Regions from separate parts of the Homo sapiens genome. Here region 1 is linked to region 2. A link means that fine-mapping ties the variant in region 2 to the expression of a gene that starts in the linked region. Tissue or cell type: tibial nerve. Region 2 holds a variant in brackets; the other region holds the start of a gene. All regions are shown on one strand. Distances are between the middles of the regions.

What was found. PIP is the estimated chance that this variant, and not a neighbour inherited with it, causes the effect.
Region 1: it holds the start of OR1L8, and the variant in region 2 is fine-mapped to the expression of OR1L8 in tibial nerve (GTEx, PIP 0.96).

Annotation. Positions count from the first base shown.
Region 1 is chr9:122,580,330-122,588,440 of GRCh38, reverse strand. OR1L8 (olfactory receptor family 1 subfamily L member 8) reads left to right here and starts at 5,057. Exons shown (of 5, transcript NM_001004454.2): 1 at 5,057-5,120. It also overlaps a transcript of OR1J2 not described here.
Region 2 is chr9:122,815,241-122,823,351 of GRCh38, reverse strand. It overlaps PDCL (phosducin like), which reads left to right. Exons shown (of 4, transcript NM_005388.5): 3 at 155-336; 4 at 2,716-5,255. The coding sequence ends at 3,267. Among named protein-coding and RNA genes, the nearest start is that of PDCL, 9.3 kb to the left of the region's middle. The variant G/A (reference allele first, on the strand shown) is at 3,458.

The sequences.
Region 1 (8,111 bases), 230 kb after region 2:
AGGTTGCAGTGAGCCGAGATCACGCCACTGCACTCCAGCCTGGTGCCTGGTGACAGAGTGAGACTTGGTCTCAGAAAAAAAAAAAAAAAAAGAATTTACAATCCTAAGTTGAAAATTATTTTCTCTTAGTCTTTGAAGATATTATTCAACTGTATTATGACTTCCATTGCTGGTGATTAGGAGATGTTTGCCAGTTTAATAATGATCCTTTGCATACAATTACTTTTCTCTTTTGCTGCTTTTAGCTTTTTATATATTTATTTTCCTCATTTGCATTATAATGTGTTTAGATGTAAATTTCCCTCATATAAGCTATTTGGGATCATTTGCTTGATGGATCTGAAAATTTGTCCTCTTCTTCTCAGCTTTATTTGGGCATAATATATATAATAGAATCTACCATTTAAAGTGTAAAATCTGATGAGTTTTGAGAAATATAAACACTTGCAGATCCACCAACACAATCAGGATGTAGAACACCACCATCCCGAAAGCTCCCTCATGCTCCTTTGTAGCCAATCCTCTCCCCTACTCAATGCTCCTAATAGTCATCAATGTTCTTTCTGTTGCTATAGTTTTGCCTTTTCCAAAATTTCATATTAATAGAATCATTCAGTATATTTTTTACACCTGACTTCCTTCACTTTGCATACTAATTTTGAGATTTATCTATGCTGTTATATGTATTCACAGTTTTTTCCCCTTTGCTGGTTAGTATTCCACTGCGTAGACATAACACAGTTTATCTGTTCACTAGCTGATGGACATTTGGGTTGTTTTTAGTTTTTGTTTGTTATGATTAAAGTGTCTATGCATACGAATCTTTATGTCAAGAGAATTTTATTTCTCTTGGGTAAATATACAGGACTGAAATTGCTTGGGTCAAATGCATGTTTAACTTTATGAAAAACTGACACTGCTTTCCAAAATGGCTCTACATAATGCATTACTACAGCCAGTGATTGGGAGTTCTAATTTCTACATGTCCTTACTACCAACTGGGATTGTCAGTCATTTGAATTTTAGCCATTCTAATGGGTTTGTCATGGTATTTCATTTGGTTTTCACTTCCATTTATCTAATTATGAAAGATGCTGAGTGTCTTTACAAATGCTGATATACTATATATCTTCTTTGATGAAGTATCTGTTCAAATCTTTTGCACACAGTTTTTTAAATAATTGGATTGTTTTCCTTCTGTAGATACTACACATTCAATAATTCCTTAGAGATCTGTTTTGCAAATATTTTCTGCCAGCCTGAGGCGTGGCTTTTTATTGAGTGTCTTTTTTTTTTTTTTTTCAAGATGGAGTCTCGATCTGTCACCCAGGCTGCAGTGCAATGGCATGATCTTGGCCCACTGCAACCTCCACCTCCCAGGTTCAAGCAATTCTCCTGCCTCAGCCTCCCGAGTAGCTGGGATTACAGGTGTCCACCACCATGCCCAGCTAATTTCTGTATTTTTAGTAGAGATGGGGTTTCACTATGTTGGTCAGGCTGGTCTTGAACTCCTGACCTCAGGTGATCTGCCCACCTCAGCCTCCCAAAGTGCTGGGATTACAGGCGTGAGCCACCGTGCCCAGCCTATTGAGTGTCTTTTGAAGAGCAAATGCATTTTATTTTTATGAAGTCTAAATTAGAAATTTTTCTTTTGTAGTTCATGATTTTTGTGTCCTATTTAAGAAAATTTTTGCCTACCCCAAGTTTGCCAGGATTTTTTTCCAATGTCTTCTTCTAATAGTTTTATAGTTATAGTTCTTACATGTTTGGCCCATTTCAAGTTTTTTTTGTATATGGTACAGCATAAGAGCCTATGTTCATTTAATTTAAGATATATTGATAGTGATTGTTCTAGCCTCATTTGTTGAAAACTATCATTTCCATATCGAATTGCCTTGGTGCATTTGTAAAAAATTAATTGACCATACACATATTGGTCTATTTTAAGATTTTCATTTATATATATATGCCTATCCTTATGCAATTATCAAATTATCTTCATTGTTATGAATTTATAGGAAGTTTAAAATTATATAAAGTTCTCTGGTTTTGTTTTCCACTTTTAAGTTGTTTTTGCTCTTCTGGTTTCTTTTTATATCCATATAAAATAATTAGCTTCTAAAATAGCCTGCTAAGATTTTGATTTAGATTGCATTGAATCTATAGATCAATCTGGGTAGAACTGACACCATGATATTGAGTAATCTAATCTATATGCAAGGTATATCTCTTCATTTATTTGAATCTTCTTTAATGCTTTATAGTTTTTAATGTATAATATGTTCACATATTGTTAAATTTGTCCTTATGTATTTCTTAGTTTTTATACTGTCATAAATTTCATGTTAAAAATTTAAATTCTCAATTGTTCACTGCTAGGACATGGGAGTTCCATTGATTGAAACTGGACTCCTATCTCTCACTTTGTACAAAAATTAACTCAAGATGGATTAAAGACCTAAATGTAATACCTGAAACTATAAAAATCCTAGAAGAAAACCTAGGAAATTTTTTATGAATTTAAAATAAATTTATTAACATATAATTCACATACAATAAAATTTACTTTATAACAGTATAACACTTTAAAAAGTGTTCCATTTAGTTGTTTTTAGTATAGTCCCAGAATTGTGCACCCATCACAACTGTTTAGCATTAGAATATTTTCATTACCATAAAAACTAACCCTGCACCCATTAGCAGTCACTCCCATTTACCTTCCCCGTGGTGCTGGAAACTACTAGAGGTACATCAAAATGAATGTTCCACCCAGCCTTTTCTAGTGATACTTTCTCCAGCCTCAGGTAGTTTATTCACACACATGTTCAGATCTAAACCCAGTCAAAGGCCCAAGAAAGCCCACCAGAAAATATCTGATATTTCTCTCTGCACAATTTCCTTTTTTCTGGTATTGTCCCAAGAATTCTAGCTTTCTTGGCTTCCCTGGCCAACATGGTGAAACGCGGTCTCCACTAAAAATACAAAAATTAGCTGGGCGTGGTGGTGCACACCTGCAGTCCCAGCTACTAGGGAAGCTGAGGCTTCCCTGGTCTTCAAACATTGTCTCCTCAACTAAAAGAGTTTGCTGGAATATTTTTGATTTTTCCTTTCTACAGTGAAGCCTGGAAATGCTCTCCAGATAGTAGGACTGAAAATAAGAAAGATCATCCCTAAGTTTCCAACCTTGTTGAGGATAGCTGTTTTGCATAGCCTTTTAAAAATAGCTTTGTTCATATAATTCCTATACCATAAAATTCAGTGTAATTTCAGTAAATTCAGTAAATTTAATTCAGAGTCGTAAAATTCTCCCAACTATCTCATTTTGAAACATTTTCATAACCCAAAATCTAGTACCCATTAGCAGTAAGTCATTATTCTACCTTGTCCCCAACCCCTAGGAACAACCCATCTACTTTCTTTCCCTATGGATTTGCCTCTTATAGACATGTCATGTAAATGGAATCATATAATGTGGCCCTTTTATACTAGCTTCTTTCATTTTGCATAATGTTGTATATATATACACACATTATATACATATATACACACATATACACACACACACACACACACACACATATATATATATATATATATATTTTAGACAGTCTTGCTCTGTCACCAAGGCTGTAGTGCATTCGTGCAATCTTGGCTCACTGCAACCTCCACCTCCTGGATTCAAGCAATTCTCATGCCTCAGCTTCCCTAGGAGCTGGAAGTGCAGGTGTGCATCTCCACGCCCAGCTAATTTTTGTATTTTTAGTAGAGATGGCGTTTCACTATGTTGGCCAGGCTGGTCTCGAGCTCCTGGCCTCAAAAGATCCGACCCCCCACCCCCGCCTCCCAAAGTACTGGGATTACAGGCATGAGCAACCATGCCCAGCCCATGTTTTCAAGGTCTGTCCATGTTGTAGCATGAATCAGTACCCTCACAGACAAACCCAGGAGCAATACTGTGCATCCTTTAATCCAATCACGTTGACACTCACTATTAACCATCACAGTTGACTAGAAGTGGCAAGTACTGTCATCTTTATCTAGTTCTTGATCTTAGGAGGAAAGCACTCAGTATTTCACCCTAGAGTATGATGTTAGCTGTGAGGTTTTCATAGACGCCTTTTATCAGGTTAAAAAAGTTTTCAAGCTTTCCCGGCTTGTTAAGTGTTTTATCATGAAAGGGTGTTGAAGTTTGTTTGATGCTTTTTCTTCACCTATCAAGATGATCATATGGTTTTTTACATTTTTATTCTTAATATGGTGTATTACATTGATTTCTATAACTTATGAATATATATTTTACTACCTATTATAAATATATTTACATAGCTGATTTAAAGTCTTTGTTTAGTAATTCCAACATCTGGACTACCTCAGAAACAGTTTCTATCTTTCTGGCTACATTTGCCAGGTATTTTTTTTTTAACTAGATATGGGGTCTCACTTTGTGGCCCAGGTTGGTCTCAAACTACAGGGCTCAAGTGAGCCTCCCACCTCAGCCTCCTAGAGTGCTGGATTACATGCTAGCTTTTGTTGTTGCTTTTTTTAGGAGCAGATTTTCTGAAGTCCTTACACTTCAATTCTGAAAATTCTATCTCCCCATGCTACCTTTTTCAATATCTAAAATCACTTGCTTTGTACATTTTGTCTGGCTTTCCTGATGTTTATTTATTTACTAACTAATGTTCACACTTTATTCCTAGTTCCTTACTTTTTCTTTTTTCCTTTTTTTAACACAGAGTCTTGCTCTTGTCACCCAGGCTGGAGTGCAGTGGCACGATCTCTGCTCACTGCAATCTCCACCTCCTAGGTTCAAGTGATTCTCCTGCCTCAGCCTCCCAAGTAGCTGAGATTACAAGCACACACCACCATGCCCGGCTAATTTTTTTTTATTTTTAGTAGAGATGGGGTTTCACCATGATGGCTAGGCTGGTCTCAAACCCCTGACCTCAGGTGATCCACCAGCCTCGGCCTCCCAAAATGCTGGGATTACAGGCGTGAGCCAGTGCGCTCGGCCTATTTCCTTACTTTTAAAATCTAATATCCTTTTTTTGTGTTCCAGGATCCCATCGAGGATATTATATTATATTCAGTCATCCTGTCTCCTTCGGCTTCTCTTGACTGTGAGTTTCTCATATTTTACTGTTTTTTTTTTTGTTTGATGACCCTGACAGTTTTAAGGAATATTGATGAAATATTTTATAGAATGTCTCTCAGTTGGGATTTGCCTGATTGTTTTGCAAAATCAGACTAGAGTGAATAGGGGCGTATCCATTTATTGTTTACTCCATGTTGTCCCACATGGAAGTTTTCCTGAACATTGGTCTTTTGCCTCTTTTGGAAAGTATTTATAAATTTACACATCAAAACGTATTGCTATTCCTGTTTATTGAGTCTCTGATTATATTATGTTAAAATAATATAATAAAATAATCCCATTTCCTTATTCTTTTATATTCTCTCTCTGCTATAATCTATATGATTTAGCTCTATTTTTTATTTAATTCTCTTTTGAGCTGTATCTAAATTGCTGTTGAGCTGCTTTTAGTTTTCATTTTAATTACACTTTTATTTCTAGAGATTTTTATTTTGTTCTCATATATATGTACTCCTGATTATTTTTAAATTGTGGCTACTAACTTTTTTAGTCTCATTCTGTTGTTATTTCTGCTAACTCTTGCTCATTATGTCTTTTTTTCCTTTAACTTAAAAAAATAACTTTTTTTAAGAGACAGGGTCTCACTCTGTCAACCCAGCTGTAGTGCAATGGGGTGTAGCTTACTGTAGCCTCAAACTCCTGGGCTCAAGTGATCCTTCCATGTCAGCCTCCTGCATAGCTGGGACTACAGGTGTGTACTACTATGCCCAGCTAATTTTTTTTTTAATTTTGTGCAGAGATAAGATCTTGCTATGTTGCCCATGCTGGCCCCAAACTCCCGAACTCAAGTGATCCTCTTGCCTAGGCTTCCCAGAGTGCTGGGATTATAAGCGTGAGCCACTGCGCCGAGCCTTGTTTGTATTTTTTAAACTCATAAATTTTGGAACTTTATCTCTAGAAAGTCTTTGAAGTCTGGGCTTAAACCATTTTCCAGAAAGGATTTTTGTTTACTTTTACCTAATTCCAACGTAAACCAAATTCTTCTTAGTTTATTATTTTTAAGCCATGGATGCAGTTTGAGTGTATTCTCAATCTTTCATTAGACGTTGATACTTCTCAGAAGTTTAAAAATATATCCTTGTCAAAAACGCAACACTTCTCAGAAGTTTTAAAAAATATGGTTAAGTCAAAAACGCAGAAAAAGAAATTTGCTTTTTCTTGCTATCTCCAAAAATAAATTAGACTTAAAAAAAATAATTCTTACACTATGAGCTTAGTCCTTCAGTGGTCCTAGCTTTAGGGAAAGGTCTCCAATACCATGATCTCCTCCCCATGCTTTGACACCGTGCTTTGTCTCTTGTTTCTTGTGAAGCTTTAAGAAATAAAGTTCTGTCTTTATTTACTTATTTATTCATTTATTTATTTATTTATTTTGAGATGGAGTCTCACTGTATCGCCCAGGCTGGAGTGCAGTGTCGTGATCTCGGCTCACTGCAACCTCCACCTTTTGGGTTCAAGCAATTGATGTGTACCACCACATCCTGCTGATTTTTCTAGTTTTAGTAGAGACAGGGTTTCACCATGTTGGCCAGGCTGGTCTCAAACTCCTGACCTCAGGTGATCTACCCGCCTCAGCCTCCCAAAGTGCTGGGATTACAGACATGAGCCACTGTGCCCGGCCTCTGTCTTTATTTTTAAAGAAGATTGGCACTCGCTTACCTCTGTGAATTCACATTTTCTTGGTATTTCTAGACTTCTAAATTTTATTTTTCTTACAAGGAAGTAGATATATCTAGGAGTTTTGAAATGAAAATGTGTTCTATGCATTTAGTTTGCCTAATTGCTAGAAACAGGAGTCCTACAAAGATTTTTGAAAATTTTTTGGAAGTCTAATTATAATGACCTACCTTTTTACCTAACTGTAATTGCTTTGACTGATGATCATAATATAATATTTGTCACTTTTTTTTTGTTTTGTTTTGAGACGGAGTCTTGCTCTGTCGCCAGGCTGGAGTGCAGTGGCGCCATCTCGGCTCACTACAACCGCCGCCTCCTGGGTTCAAGAGATTCTTGTGCCTCAGCCTCCCAAGTAGCTGGGATTACAGGCACATGCCACCATACCCAGCTAATTTTTGTATTTTTAGTAGAGACGGGGTTTCAGTGTGTTGGCCAGGATGGTCTCGATCTCCTGACCTCGTGATCTGCCTACCTCAACCTCCCAAAGTGCTGGGATTACAGGTGTGAGCCACTGTGCCCAGCCCATATTTGTCACTATTATGAAATAAATATAAACCATTATAATTATATTTAATATTCAGTCGAATTCTTTTTAGAGCTGGCCTTAGAGAGACACTGAGTATTGCTTAATTTTATAAATAAAGGCCTATTGCTCATTCTAGGACCTTATTTTATTGTAGCTGTGCTGTGGTGTGTTCTTATTACTAAAAGAAAGCAAATTACCATTATAGTAGTTACTTGGGACACTTTTTAGTAGTTTTATTGATCCACAGTGTAGTAGCTTCAGCCTAGAACAAAAGTATATTTTTTAACAACCCCAAAACAAAAAACAAATACAACACAAACATACCCTGACACCAGCACAGTCTTATCACACTTTTAATTCCCTCATAATACAATACAACAACCATTCTTTTATTAATGGAGGATGGGGTAGGGAGTATGTTATCAGTAGACTTAGAAAAAATTAGCTTAGTCATTGAAACCTTTGCCTTTTTTCTAGGAATTCCTTTCTCATATTCTTGTGTCTTCTTGGCATTGTTACGATCTTCAGCATGAGTCATATGCCCTGAAAAATGCAGACTGTACTAAATACCTTAGCACTGGTGTTCCTCTGCTTTGACCATATGGAAACTTACATTATTACAGATTAGACCTATCAACTAAGGGAAACAGAAAGGTTATTATTCAATGGTTTTATTTGTAAATGATCATTGGCACTCGGCATTCATTCTGACCGCATTCTAGTGTGCCATCCTGTACGTCGAAGGCTAGAAAT
Region 2 (8,111 bases):
CTCTGCCCTGTGGCAGAGTACACAGAGTCCCTATGATAATTGTGCAGTAGATGGAGCAAGCTTCAGGCAGATGTGAACTCCTACCTACAGATGTCAGCTGGTCCATAATTCCCTGCCCATTCTCCTTGGTCACATCCGTGTTCACCCTACTCAGGCCCAAAAGGTGTGATCAATGACTGGCGCCGCTTCAAGCAGTTGGAGACAGAGCAGAGGGAGGAGCAGTGCCGGGAGATGGAAAGGCTGATCAAGAAGCTGTCAATGACTTGCAGGTCCCATCTGGATGAAGAGGAGGAGCAACAGAAACAGAAAGACCTCCAGGAGAAGATCAGTGGGAAGGTAATTAGCAGTACTCAGGCTTTTCTTAGAGTCTGCTGTGGCTGCTAGAGCTGGGTGAGTGATTCAAGAGGTGGAGGATGCTTGATTTGACCTCCAAGAAGTTGTGCAGTGCAGGAGAAATCATAGAGCCCTGTCAAAACTCAAACCCACCCAGCTTTGGATCTCAGTTCTGCTACTAGTGACTGTGGGAGAGTCTCTTCCCTTCTGAATCTGGTGTTTCAATGGTTAAATGATGTATCCTCCCCGTGCAGGGCTGTGTTGTTAATATGCCCATCACAGTGTCTGGCCCATTGAAAGTGCTCAGTAAATTTTAGTTTCCCTTCTTTTATTGAGGTTTTATCTTGGGCCAGAAATAACCCTCTTAGGGTGGTGGTATTATCCCCTTCTTACAGATAATGGAAGCAATGCTTAGAGGGCATTAGAGGCTTGTTCAGGGCAATGCAACTGGTAAATTCTAGTAGGCGCTAGGGTTCTAACCCAAATACTCCTGTTTCTTCCATGATGTTGCTATTTCATCTGAAGCCTATTCATGAGAATTTATTCTAAGGAGGCATTATAATAAGCAAACAGATACTCTGGAAGATATTTGGAAGTAGGCACCTGATGGCCTTTTTTTTTTTTTTTTTAATAGAGACAGGGTCTATGTTGCCCAGGCTGGTCTCGGAACTCCTGAGGTCAAGGGACCCTCCCACCATAGCCTCCCAAAGTGCTAGGATTACAGGCGTGAGCCGTGGTGCCCGGCCCGTGATGGCCTCTTATCCTATCAGTATTAAAAGGGATTCACTGTTTCTCTGGATGCCCTCTGAGTGTGGACGAATGTCTGTGAGTGCCTGAGATCATTTAGTTATGGCCCAAAGCTAAAATACCACACAGGATCAGGGAGCAGATAAGAGGATTAAGCTGGGAATCATTCACCTTGACCAGGAGGCTGATTTTAGGACATTACACTTAGCCAAAGACTTCAATAGGTCAGAAGAAGCCACTCTGGTAGACTGAGTTGAAGTGGAGGGCTGCAAGATGGGAGGAAAATTGGCAATAAGTAAAATAGTGAACTCAGAATGTTGCTGGTTATGATAAAGTAACAACGTGTTCTGATCTAGTGTGATCTCCCACTCCCTGTTCCCTAATCTATGCAACATTAGGCAGAGTTAGGTTTTATGAGAGGAGCGAGGATGTCTTGCTGCACCGGGGCAGGGGTAAGATGCTTTCGTAGCTTAAGCTGTCTCTTGGGCATTGTGCCTGCTGCTCACAGCTGCTTCCTGATACTGAGGTGAGAGGCCAGAATGAGGCAACATCATATCATCACATGGATCAGTCTTGTGAGAGGCTGTTCCCGTCCTGCTGATTTATCTGCAATAGAACAGAATTGGAAACTGTCTGGCAGAATTAGGGAAGTGATTAAGCAAAGTGACACATTATATATAATTTCATAAAAATATTTGGAAACATGAGGAAATACTTATAATCGTGCTAAGTCTCGAAAGCAGGTTATGGCTTAATTGGTACACCCACAGCTGCTGCTATAAAAGCAAAACTATTTTAGTATGACTGGTAATAAAAATAATTTTTAGAGTCCATATGACTCTGTGTGTGTGTGTGTGTTTGGGGATGGTGTGGGGCAGGGGTTATGAGAGTTTTTTCTAAAATTCTGTAATGTCTTGTTATCTTTCAAAAAAAAAGTAGATAAAATATTGTCAAGACTGACAAAAAGAAATAAGCTCATGAAGTGAGATTATATGATGCTGCCTATTTGGATTGAGAGGAAATGTGATATTGTAGTTAAAAACATGGGTTTTTAAAATCTAGTTTGAGTACTGGTCTTATGCTTACTGGGTGAACTTGTTCAAATAATGTCAAGTTTTGGAACCTCATTTATAAAGTGGGGCTATTAAAAGTCCCTTCCCGATGGAGTTATGGAATTCAGTGAGATATAATGCATGTAAAGTACTTAGCATGGTGCCTTATATATTATCAGCATGTAGTACATGTTAACTGTTTTATTTCTTTTTATTTTTTTGGAGACAGGGTATCACCCTGTCTCCCAGGCTGGAGTGCACTGGTGTGATCTTGGCTAACTGCAACCTCTGCCTCCCAGGTTCAAGTGATTCTTGTTGTGCCTCAGCCTCCAGTGTAGCTGGGACCACAGGTGCACACCACCATGCCCTGCTAACTTTTTTTTTTTTTTTTTTTTTTAAGGAGAGATGAGGCTTTGCCATGTTGGCCAGGCTGGTCTTGAACTCCTGACCTCAAGTGATCCGCTCGTCTCAGCCTCCCAAAGTGCTAGGATTACAGGCGTGAGCCACCGCGCCCGGCCCATATTAACTGTTATCACGAGTGTTCAGTTTTCATATTTATGCTCACTTGCTGGTCCGCCTGCAGATGACTCTGAAGGAGTTTGCCATAATGAATGAGGACCAAGATGATGAAGAGTTTCTGCAGCAGTACCGGAAGCAGCGAATGGAAGAGATGCGGCAGCAGCTTCACAAGGGGCCCCAATTCAAGCAGGTTTTTGAGATCTCCAGTGGAGAAGGGTTTTTAGACATGATTGATAAAGAACAGAAAAGCATTGTCATCATGGTTCATATTTATGAGGATGGCATTCCAGGGACCGAAGCCATGAATGGTTGCATGATCTGCCTTGCCGCAGAGTACCCAGCTGTCAAGTTCTGCAAGGTGAAGAGCTCAGTTATTGGCGCCAGCAGTCAGTTCACCAGGAATGCCCTTCCTGCCCTGCTGATCTATAAGGGGGGTGAATTGATCGGCAATTTTGTTCGTGTTACTGACCAGCTGGGGGATGATTTCTTTGCTGTGGACCTTGAAGCTTTTCTCCAGGAATTTGGATTACTCCCAGAAAAGGAAGTCTTGGTGCTGACATCTGTGCGTAACTCTGCCACGTGTCACAGTGAGGATAGCGACCTGGAAATAGATTGAACTGATAGTCTAGTTGCATAGATTTCTCATTGTTTGGGTTGGAATACACGTCATTGTTTATTTTTGTTCCTTTGTCTTCTGGCTTTTCAGCTGTTCTTTGTAGTCCCTTTTATTATGCATAAAATAAAGAAATTCTTAGATTAAATCAGAATGCTGAATAACCTTGTAGCTAGCAATAAGGTGACTTACA[G/A]TTGTATAAACAGGAAGCCAGGCTTTTGAACTGTTTACTTAAGATTCTGTGGTGTGACATCTCTGTTATTGTTTCCAGTCAATATTTACAAAGCATCCTAAAGACAGGGTCTTGGAAATTGTCTTCAGATGATCTTAGAGGTCTCTGCCAAGTCTGAGAGTATAATTCTGTAGGTATTGTGTTATTTGCAACGTAAATAGTGCATTTTCTTAATCAAATGATTGTAAATTATATTTACTTGTAATCAGTTCCATAGCTTTAGACGGTGGTTAGATTTTTTTTTTCCCCACCAGGGTCTTGTTTAAAGGGGTGAGCCACCGCACCCAGTCCTGAGGGGTGGCCTCTGCTGCTGGATTTCATGTCTTCCTCCAGCATGACTAAGTCTGGAACAGCAGGAAGGGTTGATGCTTACTGACCTGGTGATGTTAGAAGACAAGTAGTTTATGGATTTAAACATTAGAGCTGGAGTGGGGCTGGAAATCTTTGTAAAGGAAGTTCTTTCAGTAAGATGCCCCTGCTTGTCTTTGTCTCTTTTTTGTTTAACAAGGTAACTTTTTGTTTAACAAGGTAACTTTTTGTTTAACCTAGATTTTTTTTAAAACTTTTTTTTTTTTTCATATTGGAAAAGTAATTCATATTCAGTAGAGGAAAACTGACCAAAACAGAAGCAAAAATAAGAAAATTAAAATAATCTCTAATCCTACTACCTAGAATAAAACACTATTAATATTTTGGTCTGTTTCCTGCCAAGGTGTTTTCTGTGTATACATGGATATTTTGTTTGTTTTTAAACAAAACGATGGGATCATTCTGAACATACTGTTCTATAGTATGGTCAGCTAATAATATATCAGACCTTTTTTTATATTATTAAATATTCTACAACTTTTTAAAAATGTCTATTAATATTCCATCGTATAGATGTGATATAATTTGCTTGATGGTTGTCTCTTAAAAAGAAAGATAGCAAATACTTTTTTTAAATTACAAAAGTGATAGATGTTCATTGTAGAAAATGTAATAAACACTGTTAAGACTTAAAAGCCATATAATTCCACCAACCAAAATTAATCCCTTTTGTCATATTTCTAGTCATTTTTATAGCCTTTTTTTCTATGTATTTATAATAATTATCATTTGCGTTTTTTTCCTTTTTTTAACTTTAAAAATGTATATTCTAGGGTCAGGGGAAATGTAATCTGGAATTAAATATTAGCCTTAAAATTCACAATTTTGATTTTCCTGGCTTTTCAGGAATTGACTAACTGTAAAAGAGTCTTGAAAGTATTTAGTCAACAAACAGAGTGCATTTTTTTTTTTTTTGACTAAGAAAGCTCGTTGTAGTAGAAAGGGTGGAATGTATTGAAAATTATTAGAAGCAGGGAAGTATTGTTAGTCTAGCTTATTTCCTTTCAGTCTTTTTTCAATATTTTTATAAACATTGAGTACTTACTGAATTTAGTTCTGTGCTCTTCCTTATTTAGTGTTGTATCATAAATACTTTGATGTTTCAAACATTCTAAATAAATAATTTTCAGTGGCTTCATAATATTTCATCATTTGGATATATAATAATTTATTTAACCAGTCTCTTTATTTTTATTTATTTATTTTGTTTGTTTTCTTTGAGATGGAGTCTCGCTCTGTCACCCAGGCTGGAGTACAATAGCGTGATCTCGGCTCACTGCAACCTCCACCTCCTGGGTTCAAGCAGTTCTCCTGCCTCAGCCTCCTGAGTAGCTGGGACTACAGGCACATGCCATCACGCCTGGCTAATTTTTGTATTTTTACTAGAGACGGGGTTTCACCATGTTGGCCAGACTGGTCTCAAGCTCCTGACCTCAGGTAATCTGCCCGCCTCGGCCTCCTAAAGTGCCGGGATTACAGGCGTGAGCACGCTGCACGGCCTAACCAATCTCTTTATATTGGTTATTTAGATTCTCAGTGTTTTGCTGAACACTTAATGCCTTTGTGTTTTGGGCTATATTTTGAATTATTCTCATAGATTTCTAGAAGAGGAATTACTGGGCAAATAGGGACACTTAAAAATAGCTTTTACAAACCATCTTCTGTTCTCATTGAAAATGAGAATATATTATGCACTTACAGGGAACTTGACTTTGCTTTTCAAGAACAGAAGTTCTAAAATACAGTAGGGCTGGGTGTGGTGGTTCATGCCTGTAATTCCAGCACTTTGGGAGGCTGAGGCAGACATAGTGAGGCCTCATCTCTACAAAAAATAGAAAAAATTAGCTGGGCACGGTGTTGTACCTCTAGTCCCAGCTACTTGGGAGGCTTAGTCAGGAGGATCTCTTGAGCCTGGGAGGTCAAGGCTGCAGTGAACCATGATTGCACTCCAACCTGGGCGACAGAGACCCTGTCTCAAAAAAAAAAAAAAAAAAAAAAATTAAAAAAAAGAGTAGACATGTAATGGTAATGGAGAAATCCTAGACTTTTTTTTTTGGAGATGGTGTCTCACTCTGTTGCCCAGGCTGGAGTACAGTGGCACAATCTCAGGTTACTGCAACCTCCGCCTCCTGGATTCAAACGATTCTCCTGCCTCAGCCTCCTGAGTAGCTGGGATTACAGGTGCCTGCCACCATGCCTGGCTAATTTTTGTATTTTTAGTAGAGATGGGGTTTCACCATGTTAGCCAGGCTGGTCTCGAACTCCTGACCTCAGGTGATCACCTGCCTCGGCCTCCCAAAGTGCTGGGATTACAGGCATGAGCCATCGCATCGGGCCGAGAATGTTAGATCTCTTAACTTTGGTGTCGTGGAAGCAGCATGGGCTTTAGAGTCAGGCAGATCTGGGTTCAAATCCTGTCTGGCAGTCTAGTGGTGTAGCTTCTTTCTGGTAAGAAACCTACCTTTCCTGATGCTCAGTTTCCTCATCTGTAAAATGGGAACAAAAATAACCTGTTTTGTGGAGTTGTTCTGTGACGGTGGTTCTCATGTGTGGTAGCTGGGGCAGCACCAGCAGCAGTGGCGGCCTCAGCATCACCTGGGAACTTGTCAGAAATGCAAATTCTCGGGCTTCACCCTAGACCTCCTGAATCAGGAATTCTGGGAATGACTAGGCAAACTATTTTCATGAGCCCTGTAGGTGATTCTGAAGCTTGTTCAAGTTTGAGAGTCACTGACCTATGGATTAAGGTGAGTGAGTGCACCTGTGACAGAACAAGTGCTCACTGCTCTTGGTTTCCTTATTAAAAGAGGGAGGGAGTTGAAATGGGGTAGCTCTCAGATTGCCTCTCTCCTGTTTTATTTTGTGATTCTCCCTTTTAGCCATGGAATTGGGGGAAGGAAAGAGGAACCATTTGTCTATCACAAACTGTCCCAGAGTCTTCCAGATTTCACGTTTGGAATGAAAGTCTCAGGAAGGCACGGACTTTGTTTTCTTCCTCATGTATGGCATAGAGCAGCGGTCCCCAACCCCTGGGCCACAGATCAGTATCGTTCTGTGGCCTGTTAGGAACCAGGCTGCACAGCAGGAAGTGAGCGGCGGGCCAGCAAGCTAAGCTTCATCTGTTTTTACAGCCGCTTCCCATTGCTTCCGTTACTGCCTGAGCCCCACCTCCTGTTAGATCAGCGGTGGCATTAGATTCTCATAGGAGTGCGAACCCTATTGTGAACTGCCCACGCGAGGGATGTAGGTTGTCCGCTGCTTATGAGAATCCAGCACCTGCCGATCTGTCACTGTTCCCCGTCACCCTCAGATGGGACCGTCTAGTTGTAGGAAAACAAGCTCAGGGCTCCCACTGATTCTACATTTTGGTGAGTTGTATAATTGTTATGTATTGCAATGTAATAATAATAGAAATAAAGTGTACGATAAATGCAATGCGCTTGAATCATCCTGAAACTCCCCCCACCCAACCCCAGTCTGTGGAAAAATTGTTTTCCAGGAAACCGTTCCCTGGTGCCAAAAAGGTTGGGGACCACTGGCATAGAGTAAGGGCTTGGTCTCTAGGCACAGCCTGATACTACCTTTGGAAGCAAGATGCTGAATCCCTCCATGCCTCAGTTTCCTCATCTGTGAAATGCTGATAGTAACATGAGTCAATTAATATAAAGTACCTGGAACACACAGAAGTGTTTTTATTGGTCTAGTGCCCACACTGTGCTTGGCACTTGGCAAAAGATGAATAAACATTTAAGAATGAACACATTGACTCATTGAATGGCACATCTTTTCAAAGTAGGAAGTAGTAACTGTTCAAAGGTGTAGAAACCAAGACTTAGCAGAGTTAAGTGACATTTCAACTTATACAGCTAGTGGGCAGGGCAGGATTAAAATCAGGTTTGTGAAGTTCCAACATTTGTACTATTTTCCTGATGTCATATTCTTGATGGAGAAAGCAAACTGATCAAGTGACAATAAAATAGAAACATTGAAAGACAGTGGAGAGAATAGAGGAAGGAAATAAAGAAGATAATTTATTTTTACTCATTTATTTATTTCATTATTTTTATTTATTTTTTTGAGTCAGAGCCTAGCTCTGTCGCCCAGGCAGGAGTGCAGTGGCGTGATCTCAACTCACTGCAACCTCTGCCTCCCGGGTTCAAGCGATTCTCCTGCCTCAGCCTCCTGAGTAGCTGGGACTACGGGTACGTGCCACCATACCAGGCTAATTTTTTTATTTTTAGTAGAG